Regions from separate parts of the Homo sapiens genome. Here region 2 is linked to region 1. Evidence: fine-mapped expression QTL. Tissue or cell type: whole blood. Region 1 holds a variant in brackets; the other region holds the start of a gene. All regions are shown on one strand. Distances are between the middles of the regions.

The links. PIP is the estimated chance that this variant, and not a neighbour inherited with it, causes the effect.
Region 2: UCK1 starts here. The variant in region 1 is fine-mapped to the expression of UCK1 in whole blood (TOPMed, PIP 0.98).

Annotation. Positions count from the first base shown.
Region 1 is chr9:131,562,374-131,570,632 of GRCh38, reverse strand. No RefSeq gene overlaps it. Among named protein-coding and RNA genes, the nearest start is that of PRRT1B, 21 kb to the right of the region's middle. RefSeq lists an enhancer at 2,046-2,545. The variant G/A (reference allele first, on the strand shown) is at 3,304.
Region 2 is chr9:131,527,241-131,535,259 of GRCh38, reverse strand. UCK1 (uridine-cytidine kinase 1) reads left to right here and starts at 3,997. Exons shown (of 7, transcript NM_031432.5): 1 at 3,997-4,193; 2 at 4,615-4,774; 3 at 5,676-5,772; 4 at 5,990-6,132; 5 at 6,222-6,316. The coding sequence starts at 4,086. RefSeq lists silencers at 3,592-3,761, 3,902-4,261, 4,462-4,511 and enhancers at 3,927-4,840, 5,546-6,745.

The sequences.
Region 1 (8,259 bases):
TTAAATGTGGCTGTGAATGTGCAGTGCTTAACTATGTTCTAGGAGTGACACAAGCCTGAGAAATTTGGCAAATAATTAGAAAATATAAACAGGACAAATGGAAATTCTAAACCAAAAAATACCTCATATGAAGAACTCAGTGACTGTTTAAGAGCAAAATTAGTGACCTGGAGATAGGTTAGAAGCTGTGGGTGGGCTGGGCACGGTGGCTCACGCCTGCAATCCCAACATTTTGGGAGGTGGAGGCAGGTGGATCACTTGAGGTCAGGAGTTCGAGACCAGCCTGGCCAACATGGTGAAACCCCATATCTACTAAAAATATAAAAATTAGCTGGATGTGATGGCGGGGGCCTGTAATTCCAGCTACTTGGGAGGCTGAGGTAGGAGAATCCGCTTAGAGTCCAAGAGGTGGAAGTTGCAGTGAGCTGAGATCACGCCACTGAACTCCAGCCTGGGAGACAGAGTGAGACTCCATCTCAAAAAAAAAAAAAGACGATGTGGGTAGAATGCAGCATGAAGAGACACAGGATGGAGCAAACCAGGTAGGAGGAGACCCAGGGATAGAAGTCCTGAGGGTAAGTGGACCAGCAGAAAGGAAAAGGTCAGAGCAGAAGCAAGGAATGACTCCCGTGTACATCAGTGTTCACAGCAGGATTATTCACACTGGCCAAAAAGGGGAGAGGACCCAAGGGTACAACAGCTGGTGAAAGGATTAACAAAATGAGGTATTTCCATACAGTGGAACACTTTAGCAATCCAGAGGAATGAGCTGACACATGCTGCAACATGGATGAGCCTTGAAAACATGGACATGGCCAGGCGCAGTGGCTCACGCCTATAATCCGAGCACTTTGAGAGGCCGAGGCATTCAGATCACTTGAGGTCAGGAGTTCGAGACCAACCTGGCCAACATGGTGAAACCCTGTCTCTACTAAAAATACAAAAATTAGCCGGATGTGCTTGCTTGAACCTAGAAGGTGGAGGTTGCAGTGAGCCAAGATCGTGCCACTGCACAGAGTGAGACTCTGACTCAAAAAAAAAAGAAACATGGAGGCCAGGTGGGGTGGCTCATGCCTGTAATCCCAGCACTTTGGGAGGCTGAGGCGAGTGGATCACAAGGTCAAGAGATCAAGACCATCCTGGCCAACATGGTGAAACCCCATCTCTACTAAAAATACAAAAAATTAGCCGGGCATGGTGGCGGGTGCCTGTAGTCCCAGCTACTTGGGAGGCTGAGGCAGGAGAATCACTCGAACCTGGGAGGTGGAGGTTGTCGTTAGCCAAGATTGCACCACTGCACTCCAGCTGGCGACAGAGCAAGACTCCATCTCAAAAAAAAAAAAAAAGAAAAAGAAACATGGACATGAAAGAAGCCAGATGCAAAGGGTGTGTTATCACATGATTCCATTTATATGAAATGTCTAGAAAAAGCAAATTTATAGATACAGAGAGCAGATTCATGGTTGTCTGGAAGTGGAAACAGACGGACTACAAAAAGTGCATGAGGGGCCAGGCACGGTGGCTTACGCCTGTAACCTCAGCGCTTTGGGAGCCCAAGGCAGGCGGATCACCTGAAGTCAGGAGTTTGAGACTAGCCTGGCCAATATGGTGAAACCCCGTCTCTATTAAAAATACAAAAATTACACAGTGGCTCACGCCTGTAATCCCAGCACATTGAGAGGCTGAGGTGAGCAGATCACTTGAGGTCAGGAGTATGAGATCAGCCTGGCAAACAAAGGAAAACCCTGTCTCTACTAAAATACAAAAATCAGCTGGGTGTGGTGGCGGGCACCTGTAGTCCCAGCTACTCAGGAGGCTGAGGAAGGAGAATTGCTTGATCCCAGGAGGTGGAGGTTGCAGTATGCCGAGATCACACCACTGCAGTCCAGCTTGGGCGACAGAGCGAGACTCCCTCTCAGGAAAAAAATATATATATACAAAAATTAGACCGGTGTGGCACACACGGGGCTGTAATTCCAGCAACTCGGGAGGCCAACGCATAAGAATCGCTTAAACCTGGGAGGCGGAGGTTGCAGTGAGCCAAGATCGTGCCACTGCACTCCATCCTGGGTGACAGAGCGAGACTCTGTCTCAAAAGGAGTACATGAACGATCTTTGGGGATGATGGAAACTTAAATATTGGATCACGGTGCTGGTTGCACAATTCTGCAAATTTAAAATAACTGAATCATATACTTAAATGAGTAAATTTTATGATATGTAGATTATACTTCAATGGTTTTCCTAAACCTACTGGCCAATTATCATGTCACTGCTTCTCATGTCCAAGTCCACCCTTCATTACCTGCTCTGCAATGAAGAGGTCTCCTTTGCAGTGGGCATGTTAAGTTCTGTCAATAGAGACGCTGGAGAGACACTGCTGGCGGAAGGCCCTGGCCTTTTGTCCTTGCTCTGGCTCAATGGCTGCTAGAGACATGTGTGGAGACCTGCCCCTACCGCACACCTGTCACTTCGGCCCCAGTGGTGTTATGGTGGCCACCTTGCTGTGGCCGTCCAGGCATGGGTAATGCACACCTCACCCTTGTGCCACCCTGCTGGCCAGCAGGTTCCCAACACCCCAACTCCCAACGCATGCCCGCCCACCAGCCTCAGCCCACCTGCACCTCAAAGGGACTTGCCCAGCCCAGTGAGCCAGCTCTGGCCCCGGGGCCCAGTGAGTGCTACCTCCCAGTAGGCTGCACTCACACCTTCTCCAGTGACTTCTCAATCCCAGCCATGGGGATTGGGCCCTTCTAAGTTTTTTCTTCTTGGGTACTCACCTTCAGCCCTAGAGCATTCTTTAGCACTCACAGTTTCTCTTCTCGTCGGGTTATTCTTTATATTAATCTTTTCCTGTCCAAATTACTCTCTATGTCTCCTGATCAGTCCTTGACTGGAAGCATCAAGCCTTGGATTCCAGAAGCCTTATGAACCCCCAGGCAGGATAATAAATAAGAAGAATACACCAAAGCACAGCATGATGAAGCTTTTGAAAACTAAAGAGAAAAAGAAGTCTTTTTTTTTTTTTTTTTGAGATGGAGTCTTGCTCTGTCACCCAGGCTGGAGTGCAGTGGCGCGATCTCGGCTCACTGCAAACTCCGCCTCCTGAATTCACGCCATTCTCCTGCCTCAGCCTCCTGAGTAGCTGGGACTACAGGCGCCCGCCACCACGCCCGGCTAATTTTTTGTATTTTTAGTAGAGACGGGGTTTCACCGTGTTAGCCAGGATGGTCTGGATCTCCTGACCTCGTGATCCGCCCGCCTCGGCCTCCCAAAGTGCTGGGATTACAGGCGTGAGCCACC[G/A]CGCCCGGCCTGAGAAAAAGGAATCTTTAAGCAATCATACGGGGAAAAAGGGCCCATCACCTTCAAAGGAGCCACAATTAGACTCCTCAACAGACATGATTGAGGCTGGAAGATAAGGGAATGGTATCTTCTTCAAAGCCGAAAGAATAGGACCACGATCCAAAATTCTACGCTCACTGAAAATACCTTTCAAGAATGCAGGTGGCCGGGTGTGGTGGCTCACGCCTGTAATCCCAGCACTTTGGGAGGCCGTGGCAGGTGGATCATGAGGTCAGGAGATCGAGACCATCCTGGCTAACACAGTGAAATGCCGTCTCTACTAAAAATACAAAAAATTAGCCAGGCAAGGTGGCGGGCGCCTGTAGTCCCAGCTACTTGGGAGGCTGAAGCAGGAGAATGGCATGAACCTGGGAGGCCGATCTTGCAGTGAGCCAAGATCGCGCCACTGCACTCCAGCCTGGGCCAAAGTGCGAGACTCCATCTCAAAATAAAAAAAAAAAAAAGAATGCAGGCAAAATCAAGATATTGTGAGATTAAAAAAACAGAAAACTCACCACTGGCAGACCTACACTAAGCAAAGACTCAACTTTCTCAGGCAGAAGTGAAATGATCCCAAATGGAAGATCATACTTGCAGGAGAGAATGAAAGAGCAACAAAAAGAGTGAACAGGTGGATAAATGAACACTCGCTATGTAAAACAGCCATGAAAATGTCTTGTCTGGGCACGGTGGCTCATGTCTGTAACCCAACACTGGGAGGCTGAGGCAGGTGGATCACTTGAGCCCAGGAGTTCAAGACCAGCCTGGGCAAGCAACATGGCAAAACCCCATCTCTACAAAAACTACAAAAATTAGCCAGGTGTAGTGGTGAGTGCCAGTAGTCCCAGCTACCTGGGAGGCTGAGATAGGTAGGAGGATTGCCCAAACCTGGGAAGTGCAGCTGCAGTGAGCCGTGATCGCCACCACTGCACTCCAGCCCGGGCAACAGAGTGAGACCCTGTCTCTAAATAAATAAATAAATAAAAATTAAGTTACAAGTACAGAAAAGTTGAAAGTAAAATTTTGGGGAAAGATACACTTTGCAAATATGGTCCACCAAAAAAAAAAACCCCAAAGCATAGCTATATTAATATCAGAAAAAACAGACTTCAAGGCAAAAGGCATTGCTAGAGTTACAAAGGAAACACTTTGTAAAGATACAAATTACACCCAACAGATTTAACAGTTTCTAAATTTGTATACACCTAATTACATGGCCTCAAAATATGTAAAGCAAAAGCTGACAGTACTACAAGGAGAAATGGATAAATCTATGATTCTAGTGGGAAGTGCTAACACACATCTCCCAAACATATGAGGAATAGAAAACATCAAATCTTAGCCGGGCGGAGTGGCTCATGCCTGTAATCCCAGCACTTGGGGAGGCCAAGGCAAGTGAATTGCAAGGTCAGGAGTTCGAGACCAGCCTGACCAACACAGTGAAACCCTGTCTCTACTAAAAATACAAAAAATTAGCTGGGTGTGGTGGCAGGCGCCTGTAATCCCAGCTACTTGGGAAACTGAGGCAGGAGAATTGCTTGAACCCAGGAGGTGGAGGTTGCAGTGAGCCAAGATGGCGCCACCACACTCTAGCCCAGGAAACAGAGTGAGACTCCATCTCAAAAAAAAAAAAAAAAAAAGGAAAAGAAGAAAAGAAAATGTCAGATCTTATACAACACTTCCAAAAATGAAAATGAGAAACATTTTCAACTCTTTTGATGAGACCAACGTAACTATGATACCGAAACTATAACAAGAACGAAAGTTACCGTCCAATTTCACTCATGAACACAATGCAAAAATCCTAAACAAAATTTTAGCAAAGTGAAATACAGAAAGTATAATAATACATCCTCATCAAGATGAAGTTATTCCAGGAATGAAAAGCTATTTTAACATTTGAAAATTAATATGGTAACATAAGTTACCATATTAATGGATTAAATCTGATCATTTTCTCAGTACACATGAAAATAAAATTCAATATCTATGCATAGTTTTTTAAAACTCTTTGTAAACTAGGAATAGAAGGGTACTTAACCTGAAAAAAAAAAATCTGTTTTTTTAACAAGATGAAATGTTGAAAGCCTTAATTTTGAGACTGGGAAAATGACAAGGTTGCCTGCTGTCAGCACTCCTATTCGGCATTATAATAGGGGTCCCGGCTAGTGCAATAAGGCAAGAAAAATACCCAAGGTGGGTAAGAATTGAAAAGGAAGACAACTCATTATATATAGATAACATTGTGTATAGAAAACCCAACAGAATCTACAGATAAATTATCAGAATTAAGAAGTGAATTTGGGGCTGAGCACTGTGGCTCACACCTGTAATCCCAGCACTTTGGGAGGCTGAGGTGGGAGGATCACATGAGGTCAGGAGTTTGAGACCAGCCTGGCCAACATGGTGAAACCCTGTCTCTACTGAAAATAGAAAAATTAGCCAGGTGTGGTGGAGCACACCTGTAATCCCAGCTACTCAGGAGGCTGAGGCAACTCCAGCCTGGGCAACAGAGTGAGACTCCTTCTCAAAAAAAAAGACAAGTGATTTTGGGGCGTGGTGGCTCATGCCTGTAATCCCAACTGCTTGGGAGGCTGAGACAGGAGAATCCCTTGAGCCCAGGAGTTTGGGGCTGCAGTGAGGTACAGTCACACCACAGTACTCCAACCTGGTTGACACCCTATCTTAAAAAAAAAACAAGGCTGGGCAACATAGGGAGACCCCATCTCTACAGAAAAATAAAAAAATAGCCAGGTGTGGTGGTGCACACCTGTGGTCCTAGCTACTCGGGAGGCTGAGATGGGAGGATCACTTGAGCCAAGGAGGCTAAGAATGCAGTGAGCTGTGATCACACCACTGCACTCCAGCCTTAGTAATAGAGAAAGACAATGTGTCAAATATACATATATATGTATATACATACACATGTATATATATATACACACATATATGTATATATACATATATATGTGTATGTATATACATATATATGTGTATATATGTGTGTGTGTGTGTGCGTGTGTGTGTGTATATATATATATATATAGCCCCATAATGAAGTGTGATAGTGGCAAAGAAATAGGCAAACAGGGCTGGGCGCAGTGGTTCATGCCTGCAATCCCAGCACTTTGGGGAGGCCAAGGCAGGCAGATCGTGAGGTCAGGAGTTCAAGACTAGCCTGGCCAACATAGTGGAACCCCGTCTCTACTAAAAATACAAAAAAATTAGCTGGGCATGGTGGCACGTGCCTGTAGTCCCAGCTTACTCTGGAGGCTGAGACAGGAGAATCTCTTGAACCCGGGAGGTGGAAGTTGCAGTGAGCTGAGATCACGCCATTGCACTCCAGCCTGGGTGACAGAGTGAGACTTCATCTCAAAAAAAAAAAATAATAATAGAGCTCTGGAACCTATTCTAGGCTGGTGGCAGATCTAACTGTGAAAATAAGCAATGAGGCCAGGCACAGGAAGGCAACGGTTGCTCACGCCTGTAATCCTAGCACTTTGGGAGGCAGAGGTGGGCGGATCACTTGAGGTCAGGAGTTCAAGACCAGCCTGGCCAATATGGTGAAACCCTATCTCTACTAAAAATATAAAAATTAGCCGGGCATGATGGCAGGCGCCTATAATCCCAGCTACTTGGGAGGCTGAGGCAGAAGAATCGTTTGAACCTGGGAGGTAGAGGTTGCAGTGAGTCGAGATGGCACCACTGCATTCCAGCCTGGGTGACAGAGCGAGACTCCAACTCAAAAGTTAAAAAAAATAAATAAATAAAAATAAAGCTTCTAAATCTAAAAGACATTATAAGAGCATCTTCATGTCCTATGAGTACAGAAATTTTATTAAGCCACAAAAGCCACTGAAATACTCCTACACACATACTATTTACAAAGGAAAAGATAAGCTTGACTACCTTAAAACTGAGAACTTTTCAGCTGGACACAGTGGCTCACGCCTGTAATTCCAACACTTTGGGAGGTCAAGGCGGGCGGATCACGAGGTTAAGAGATCAAGACCATCCTGGCCAACATGGTGAAATCCTGTCTCTACTAAAAATACAAAAATTAGCCAGGCATGGTGCAGGCACCTGTAATCCCAGCTACTCAGGAGGCTGAGGCAGGAGAATCGCTTGAGCCTGGAAGGTGGACGTTGCAGTGAGCAGAGATTGCACCATTGCACTCCAGCCTGGGTGACAGAGCGAGACTCCATCTCAAAAAAAAAACAAAACTGAGAACTTTTCATCAGATGATACCATTAAGAATGAAAAGGGAGGGAGGCTGAGGCCGGAGAATCACTTGAACCTGGGAGGCGGAGGTTGCAGTGAGCAGAGATCACGCCATTGCACTCCAACCTGGGCAACAAGAGCGAGACTCTGTCTCAAAAAAAAAAAAAAAAGTGAAAAGGGAAGCTACCAAGTGAGAAAGGATGTTTGCAATACTGTATCTAATGTAGGACTCATCCCAAATACATACAGAACTGCTCTAAAACAAAGACAGTCAAACATAAAAATGGGCACAAAACTTGAACAGGCACCTCGTAAAAAGAGATATCCAAATAGCTGGTAAACATGATAAAAGGCTAGGCCAGGTGCAGTGGCTCACACCTGTAATCCTAGCGCTTTGGGAGACCAAGACAGGAGGATTGTTTGAGGCCAGGAGTTCAAGACCAGCCTGGGCAACATAGACTCTTGTCTCTTTAAAAAAAAATTTAAAAATCAGCCAGATGTAGCAGTGCACACCTGTGGTCGCAGCTACTTGGGAGGCCAAAGCAAGAGGATTGCTTAAGCCCAGGAATTCCAGGTTACAGTGAACTGTGAACATGCCACTGCACTCCAGCCTGGGGCAATGGAGTGAGACCCTTGTCTGTATTAAAAAAAAAAAAAAAAAAAAAAAAAAAACATGATAAAAGCCTAAATATTATT
Region 2 (8,019 bases), 35 kb after region 1:
GGCTGAGGCAGGCGAATCACTTGAACCTGGGAGGTGGAGGTTGCAGTGAGCCAATATCGCGCCACTGCACTTCAGCCTGGGAGACAAAGTGAGATTCCGTCTCGAAAAACAAACAAACAAAAAAAAAACCCACACCACCAAACCTTGTTTAGCCTCTCGTTCCGTTATCTAGAACAGCCATGTCAGACCAGAAGGGCACACCCCAGAACTCAAAACCATGCTTTTCCCTGGGTGAGGAGTAAGGGGTGGTTCTAGTTTTGGTTGTGTGTTTGTGTGTATACATTTTCTGCAATCAGCAGGAGTCACTTTTATGATTACAGGGAAAAGGGCAATCAATACTTAAAACAGCAGGCACCTGCTTATCTCTTTAAGCGCTGAGAGCCAGCTAGTGTTCAATAAAAGCTTCAGGACATGCTTGGCATGAGCTGACATTTTTGTAGTGGTTAGGGTGGCTTGAAGGAGGAGGGAGGAGGGCAGCCATGGAGAGCGGTGTTTCCTGTACTGCATGTGTTTGAGGGGGCAGGGGGAGCAGTTTTAGATTCACAGAAAAATTGAGCAGAAGGTGCAGAGATTTCCTATATACTCCCCACTCCCCCACATGCACAGCCTCCCCGATTTTCAACATCCCGCACCAGAGAGCAGGTAAGAGAATGAATCCAGAGTAGACAGTGGTCACTCTTAGGAGTACTGCCTTGCCTGGCTCTGGGAAACCCAAACTCCGAGGGCTCCAAGCCTCCACCCAACTCTCCACCTACCCCCACCCCCCAATTCAGCAACAACGTTTTTTTGTTTTTTTTTTTTTTTTTGGAGACAGGGTCTCGCTCTGTTACCCAGGCTGTAGCGCAGCGGCGCGATTTCTCTTCAATGCAACCTCTGCCTCCCAAGCTCAAGCAATCCTCCCATCTCAGCCTCCCCAGTAGCTGGGACCACAGGCCTATGCCACCACACTCAGCTAGTTTTTATTTTTTTCTTTTTTTGCAGACAGAAAAAAAAGTGCAGTGGCACGATCTCAGCTCATTGCAACCTCTGCCTCCTGGGTTCAAGTTCTCCTGCCTCAGCCTCCTGAGTAGCTGTGATTACAGGCGCATGCCAACATGCTCGGCTTATTTATTTACTTATTTATTTATTTATTTTTGCCCAGGCTGCAGTGCAGTGGCGTGATCTCGGCTCACTGCAATCTCCGCCTCCCAGGTTCAAGCGATTCTCCTGCCTCAGCCTCCCGAGTAGCTGGGATTACAGGCGCCCGCCACTGTGCTCAGCTAATTTTTTGTATTTTTAGTAGAGACGGGGTTTCACTATGTTGGCCAGGCTAGTCTTGAACTCCTGACCTCGTGAGTCGCCTGCCTCAGCCTCCCAGAGTGCCGGGATTACAGGCGTGAGCCACCGTGCCCGGCCAATTTTTGTATTTTTAGTAGAGATGGAGTTTCACCATGTTGGCCAGGCTGGTCTCGAACTCCTGACCTCAAGTGATCCGCCTGCCTCGGCCTCCCAGAGTGCTGGGATTACAGGCGTGAACCACTGCACCCGGCTGACTCATGCTTCTTTAAGGACACTCTTCGGCTGGGCACAGAGGCTCACACCTGTAATCCCAGCACTTTGGGAGGCTGAGGCAGGTGAATAGGAGTTCGAGACCAGCCTGGGCAACATGGCAAAACCCTGTCTCTATACTAAAAATACAAAAATTAGTCGGGCCTGGTGGCAGGTGCCTGTAGTCCCAGCTACTCGGGGAGGCTGAGGCAGGATAATTGCTTGAACTCGGGAGGCGGAGGTTGCGGTAAGCCAAGATTATGCCACTGCACTCCAGCCTGGGCAACAGAGCAAGATTCCGTCTCAAAACGAACAAAAAAAACCCATAAAAGTCACTCTTCTTCACAATATGGGGAGTTGGGGACCAGCTAGAGGTTTGGGGCTGGCCCTCTGCTTGGTGGTGGTTGGGATGGTCCCATAGGGGAGCCACTGTGGCCCAGAGGCCTGAGCCGTGTGGGCCCGGGCCTTGTTTACTGGACTGTGGGCTTCCTGGGTGCTGGGCCTGCTCCCAGGGAGTGGCTCCTTCCCAAAGCGTCCCTTTGCCTTGGGAGCGGAACCACGCAATAGCCTGACTGGCCCTGGCAGCCCATGCCTTGTGGCCAGTCACCAGAGAGGGCACACGAGACCCAGGCCAGGGGTATCAGGGACAGCCCCTGGTCAGACTCTGCTAGTTTCCCTGCCTTTCGCTACGTGGCTGGACCACAGGGGAAGAAATGGCAAGAAACCGTGTCTAACTCTCCCTTGATACAAATTCAAAGTTGGCTTGGGGGATGGCCACCTTTGGGACACACACCTGGACAGATCTAAGCCAGCAGCGTGGCTGTTTGCTAGGCACTGTTCTGTGCCTGGGGCTTAATTTACAGAGGTACGGCTGAATGACCATGAGGAGAGGCCAAAGCCATCGCAAGATTGATCGCATTTCCTGAGAGAAGGGGCACCCATGCCATGCACGGTTCTCAGTAGAGAACCCCAGGTTTGGTCAGGAGGCAGAAGCAGGGGCGAGGGGAGAGCCCAGGCCTGAGGCTTTCTTGGGGTTTCCATGGAAAAGGCCTGGCAGGGCAGGGAAAGAGTTTAAAATTGGCTAGTTTGAGTAATTCTAGCAGGCTCTGGGCTGCAGAGTGGTCTCTAGTCACCTGATACCTGGCCCTGGGTGACTTAGGGCAGGGAGAATCTTGCCTCCAAAGGCGAGAATTAGATAAGGAGGTAGCTGGGGCTGTAGACTTGGGGTCTTTTTTTTTTTTTTTTTTTTTTTTGAGACAGAGTCTCACTCTTTCCCCCAGGCCGGAGTGCAGTAGCGTGATCTTGGCTCACTGCAAGCTCCACCTCCCGGGTTCACACCATTCTCCTGCCTCAGCCTCCCGAGTAGCTGGGACCACAGGCGCCCGCCACCATGCCCGGCTAATTTTTTGTATTTTTAGTAGAGACGGGGTTTCACCATGTTAGCCAGGATGGTCTCGATCTCCTGACCTCGTGATCCACCCGCCTCGGCCTCCCAAAGTGCTGGGATTACAGGTGTGAGCCACCGCGTCCGCCCGGGGTTGTCTGTTTTGTATATGAAAAGCATGCTCTGCCCCGAGCCTTAGCTATCTCTCTCTCTTTTTTATTTTTGAGACGGAGTCTTGCTCTGTGGCCCAGGCTGGAGTGCAGTGGCACCATCTCGGCTCACTGCAACCTCCACCTCCCGGGTTCAAGCGATTCTCCTGCCTCAGCCTCCCAAGTAGCTGGGATTACAGGCGCCCGCCACCACGCCCAGCTGATTTGTTGCATTTTTAGTAGAGGCGGGGTTTCACCGTGTTCGCCAGGATGGTCTCGATCTCCTGACCTCGTGATCTACCCGCCTCAGCCTCCAAAAGTGTTGGGATTACAGGCGTGAGCCACCGCGCCCGGCTGGAAATCCATAATTTCAATGGATCAGAATTTGCCTGTCACGTTCTCTGTGCCAGGCACGGAGCGGGGGGGCGGCAGGGATGGAACCCGGCACATGGGCCTCTGCCTCCTTGGCGCGCTGTAGGCGCGAGCCTAAAGTCATCAGGCGACAGCCCCCGCCACGTTCCGGGGCGCCCCGACGGCTCCAGCAGCGGGTGGGGTGGGAGGCGTCCGGACAGTCCGGAGGCCTCGATGGCCAAGAGGAGCCTGGGCTGGAGGGGGCCAGGCCCGGGGGCGGCCGGGGGAGGGCCCGGGACTGGCGCAGAGGCAGCGCGAGGCAGAGGCAAGCACTCGGACGAAGGCGCAGCCCCAGCCTCGGGGTGCGGAACGGGCACCTTCCGGGCCACTTGAGTCTGAGACCTTGTAGCCGGCTCGAGGCCCGGGCGCAGCAGTCCCTGCCAGCCAGCTTTCGGCGCAATGGGACGCGGGCGCTCCTGGTGTGCCGGCCTCGGGCCCTGCACCCTCACGCATGCGCGGCCCCCCCCCCCCCGGTGGACTACAACTCCCGGCGTGCCCCGCGCGCCTCCCGGAAGTGATCGCTCCGGTTGCCTCCGACCTCGGCGCTGGGCGGGCGCGCCGGGCCTGGGGAAGGGGCGGGCGCGGGGACCCGATGCGCGGGAGCGGAGGCCGAGATGGCTTCGGCGGGAGGCGAAGACTGCGAGAGCCCCGCGCCGGAGGCCGACCGTCCGCACCAGCGGCCCTTCCTGATAGGGGTGAGCGGCGGCACTGCCAGCGGGAAGGTAAGGGGCCGAGCGGGCCGGGGTCTCGCCTCTCGCCGGTGCCTACGGGCGGCCCGGTCCAGAGAGGAGACCCCAGCCCCGGCCGAGGGGCCCCCTGCCAGGCAGGGGCAGGGCGCGGGAGCGAAGGGGCTGCAGGCCGCGATGGGCCGGGGCGGGCTGGGGCGGGCGAGGGGTTGGGGCGCTGGGCCTCGGGGCTCCCCCACAGCCTCTCCGCCGGCCGGGCTCCTCGGAGCCCCAAGTCCGTGCTAACCCCGTTGGGCCCCCGCGGCCCTTCCGCTGAGACCATCCACACCTGTTGGTGTCCTCCCGCCTTCCGAGCATACCCCCCAGGGGGCGGGTGGGTCAGTGTCTCCAGAAGCCGGCCCCGTGCCTGTCACAGGACGAGCGGTTCCAGGCGGGAATCCCGCTTCTGTGTCTCCAGTCGACCGTGTGTGAGAAGATCATGGAGTTGCTGGGACAGAACGAGGTGGAACAGCGGCAGCGGAAGGTGGTCATCCTGAGCCAGGACAGGTTCTACAAGGTCCTGACGGCAGAGCAGAAGGCCAAGGCCTTGAAAGGACAGTACAATTTTGACCATCCAGGTAAATCGCGAGCCCAACGATGTGGGGAGGGCAGACCCCATTCTGGGCGGCCGCTAACCAGCTGCGCTTGGGCCCAAGGTTGGATGGATGCAGACCCGCTTGGGCTGTTCCCCCAACTCGCCACGCAGCCTGCAGTGGAGTTGGCTGCACAGTGAAGTCAGGGGAACTTTGCTGAGTTCTCTGGGCCCTGAGTGTCCCCCCAGGAGCGTGGTTGGAGCCAGTCAGGAAGCCTGTTGCACTGTGGGGAGCCCTGCCCTGCCCTGCCACAACTGTGATCCTGGAGAAATCCTCCCATCTTCCCTTCCCACGTTGGGGCCTTTAGGGCCCTCCACACACACCTCTGCCCACTGTGCCCTCCCGTGCTTTGGGGCAAAGTCCTCAGAGAGGCCAGTGTGGGAGGCGGTAGGTAAACTAGTGCTGGTGGCTTGAAGCTCCGGGCCAGGTAAACGGGCAGATGCGGCAGGGAGACACCTGCCACTGCTAGAAGATTCCACCCTGGCTGGCTGGCATGGTCAGCCTTTTCCCAAGGACTTGTGGGAAGAAGGCCTGCAAAGCCGCAGTCTAACCAGTTAGTCCCAGAAAGAGAGAGAAGCAGAGGCCCAGCCTACCCACCTCCCAGGAAGAGCTGATCAGAAAACCCCTGTGTTCCGGCATCTCAGGGGCACAGAGCTTGGGCAGTGGCACAGCCCGAGAACAGCAAGGACAGGGTCATCCTGTGGTCTGCAGGGCTGCAGAGGGCACTGTTGCTACCAAACATACACTGCCGTAGTCCTAGTCTACCTGTGCTAGGGTTCTCGGTGTCCCCAGCACCCAGCTGTGCTGACCCCAGAGCAGAGAGGGTTCCCTGCTGTCCGCTGCACGAGGGCATCTGCCTGTCTTGCCTTTGTCTCCAACCCTGCAGATGCCTTTGATAATGATTTGATGCACAGGACTCTGAAGAACATCGTGGAGGGCAAAACGGTGGAGGTGCCGACCTATGATTTTGTGACACACTCAAGGTAAGCAGGTGGTTCTAGGGAGGGCCGAGGAGAGGGGCCAGCTAGGACGTCCCCTCGGGCTCACACAGACCTGCCTGGCGGCAGGCCTCCCCCGGTTGGTTTCTGTGGGTCCCCCACCCCTTCCCACAGTCAGTGTCCCTGCAATGGAAGCTGACTGTGTGTGTGGCCTGGAGACCCTGTGTCTGCAGCAGAGCCCCTTTCCCCGTGCGCCCCTCAGGTTACCAGAGACCACGGTGGTCTACCCTGCGGACGTGGTTCTGTTTGAGGGCATCTTGGTGTTCTACAGCCAGGAGATCCGGGACATGTTCCACCTGCGCCTCTTCGTGGACACCGACTCCGACGTCAGGCTGTCTCGAAGAGGTAAGGCGGCCGCGGGCCTCCGTGCCTGCCTGGCCGAGGCTGGCGGCAGGTCCTGAGGTCTGAAGCACGCCTGCCCCTTGCCGCTGCAGTTCTCCGGGACGTGCGCCGAGGGAGGGACCTGGAGCAGATTCTGACGCAGTACACCACCTTCGTGAAGCCGGCCTTCGAGGAGTTCTGCCTGCCGGTACCTGTGCTCGCTGCTTCAGAGCCCATTTTCCCCTTTCACAAGGACACATGGGACCCAGTACTGTGAGAGGGCTTAGTGCTGGGTGACAGTGATCTGATTGAAAAAAAGGAGAAGAATTTGGCTCATTATGGCCACATACCCTGGGAGTAGTTCTCAGCTGTAAAAACATTCTCTGTGCCTGCTCCTCCCTCTGCCTAAAAAAGCCCCATATCTCCCCCACATTCACACTGGCCGCTTCCTCCCTGCCTCAGGCCCTTGCCCAGCGTCCCCATTCAACACTGAAAACCCTCTGCACCCAGCGCCAGCCTCTCTGCCTGCTTCCTTTTTCCGGGGCACTTACCATCATCTGACACGTCCTGGGTGCTTATTCCCCGCAGAGTGGGGAAGCCCAGGAGCACTTTAGTCTGTTCACTGCCAAGGCCGGGATCTGGCCCTCAGAAGGTGCTTCAGAGCTGCTCCTCCAGGGTCTGTGACCCCAGGCTGCTCTGGGCCAGTGCTCTGAAATCTTGGAGTGAGCGCTGTGCCCAGATCCCAGCTGGCTCGCAGAGAGCAGGAACTCCCCGCTGCACACCCACCTGTCTTTTCTCCATTTCTCCATCTTGTGTTTCTGGCTTGGTGGGACTCGTGGCTCTACTCAAATGGGAGTGTTTTGCACGGGAACATTTTGCCTGTTAAGGTAAAAATACAGCACAAAGGAACTGAAACCAAGATTCCTGCCTTTGATAATGTAGGACAAGTAAGTTCTATCTGCTGCTTTTTTTTTTTTTGAGATAGGGTCTCTTTTTGTCGTCTAGGGTGGAGTGCAATGGCACGATCTCGGCTCACTCCAAACTCCACCTCCCAAGTTTAAGCAATTCTCCTGTCTCACCCTTCCGAGTAGCTGGGATTACAGGCGTACGCCACCACACCCAGCTAATTTTTGTATTTTTAGTGGAGATGGGGTTTTGCCATGTTGGCTGGGCTGGTCTCGAACTCCTGGACTCAAGTGACCCACCCACTTTGGCCTCCCAAAATGCTGGGATTGAGCCACTGTGCCTGGCCTTTTTTTAAATTTTATTTTTAATGAGGCAGAGTCTTGCTCTGTTGCCCAGGCTGGAGTACAGTGGTGCAATCACAGCTCACTGCAGTCTTGACCTCCTAAGCTCAAGCGATCCTTCCACCTCAGCAACCCGAGTAGCTGGGCCCACAGGCGTGCACCACCATGCTCGGTTAATTTTTAAATTTTTTGTAGAGATGGGGTCTCCCTGTGTTGCCCAGGCTGGTCTCCATCTCCTGGGATCTAGTGGTCCTCCCACCTCAGCTTCCCAAAGTGCTGAGATTACAGGTGTGAGCCACTATGCCTGGCCTATTGGCTGCTATATAAAGAAAACTTTTGTTTTTTTTTGCATTCATGCTGTCTGAAATTTCTAAAATATAATTTTAAAAGTAAAGTTAACTTGTTTTAGTCTCTCATTCACAGAAAGATATTTGGCAAAAAGTAGGTGATTCGCAGTAAAACTCTGGATATCAAATCTGCCTCAGCGACCTGAGTAGAGGAAGTGCTGTCACCTGCTATGTTCTGGGCCCAGGCCCCAGAGATGTTTTTGGTTGGTTTGTTTGCTTGCTTGTTTTTTGAGACAGGGTCTCCCTCTGCCACCCAGGCCCAAGTGCAGTGGTGAGATCTTGCTTCACTGCAGCCTCCACCTTCCACTCTCAAGTGA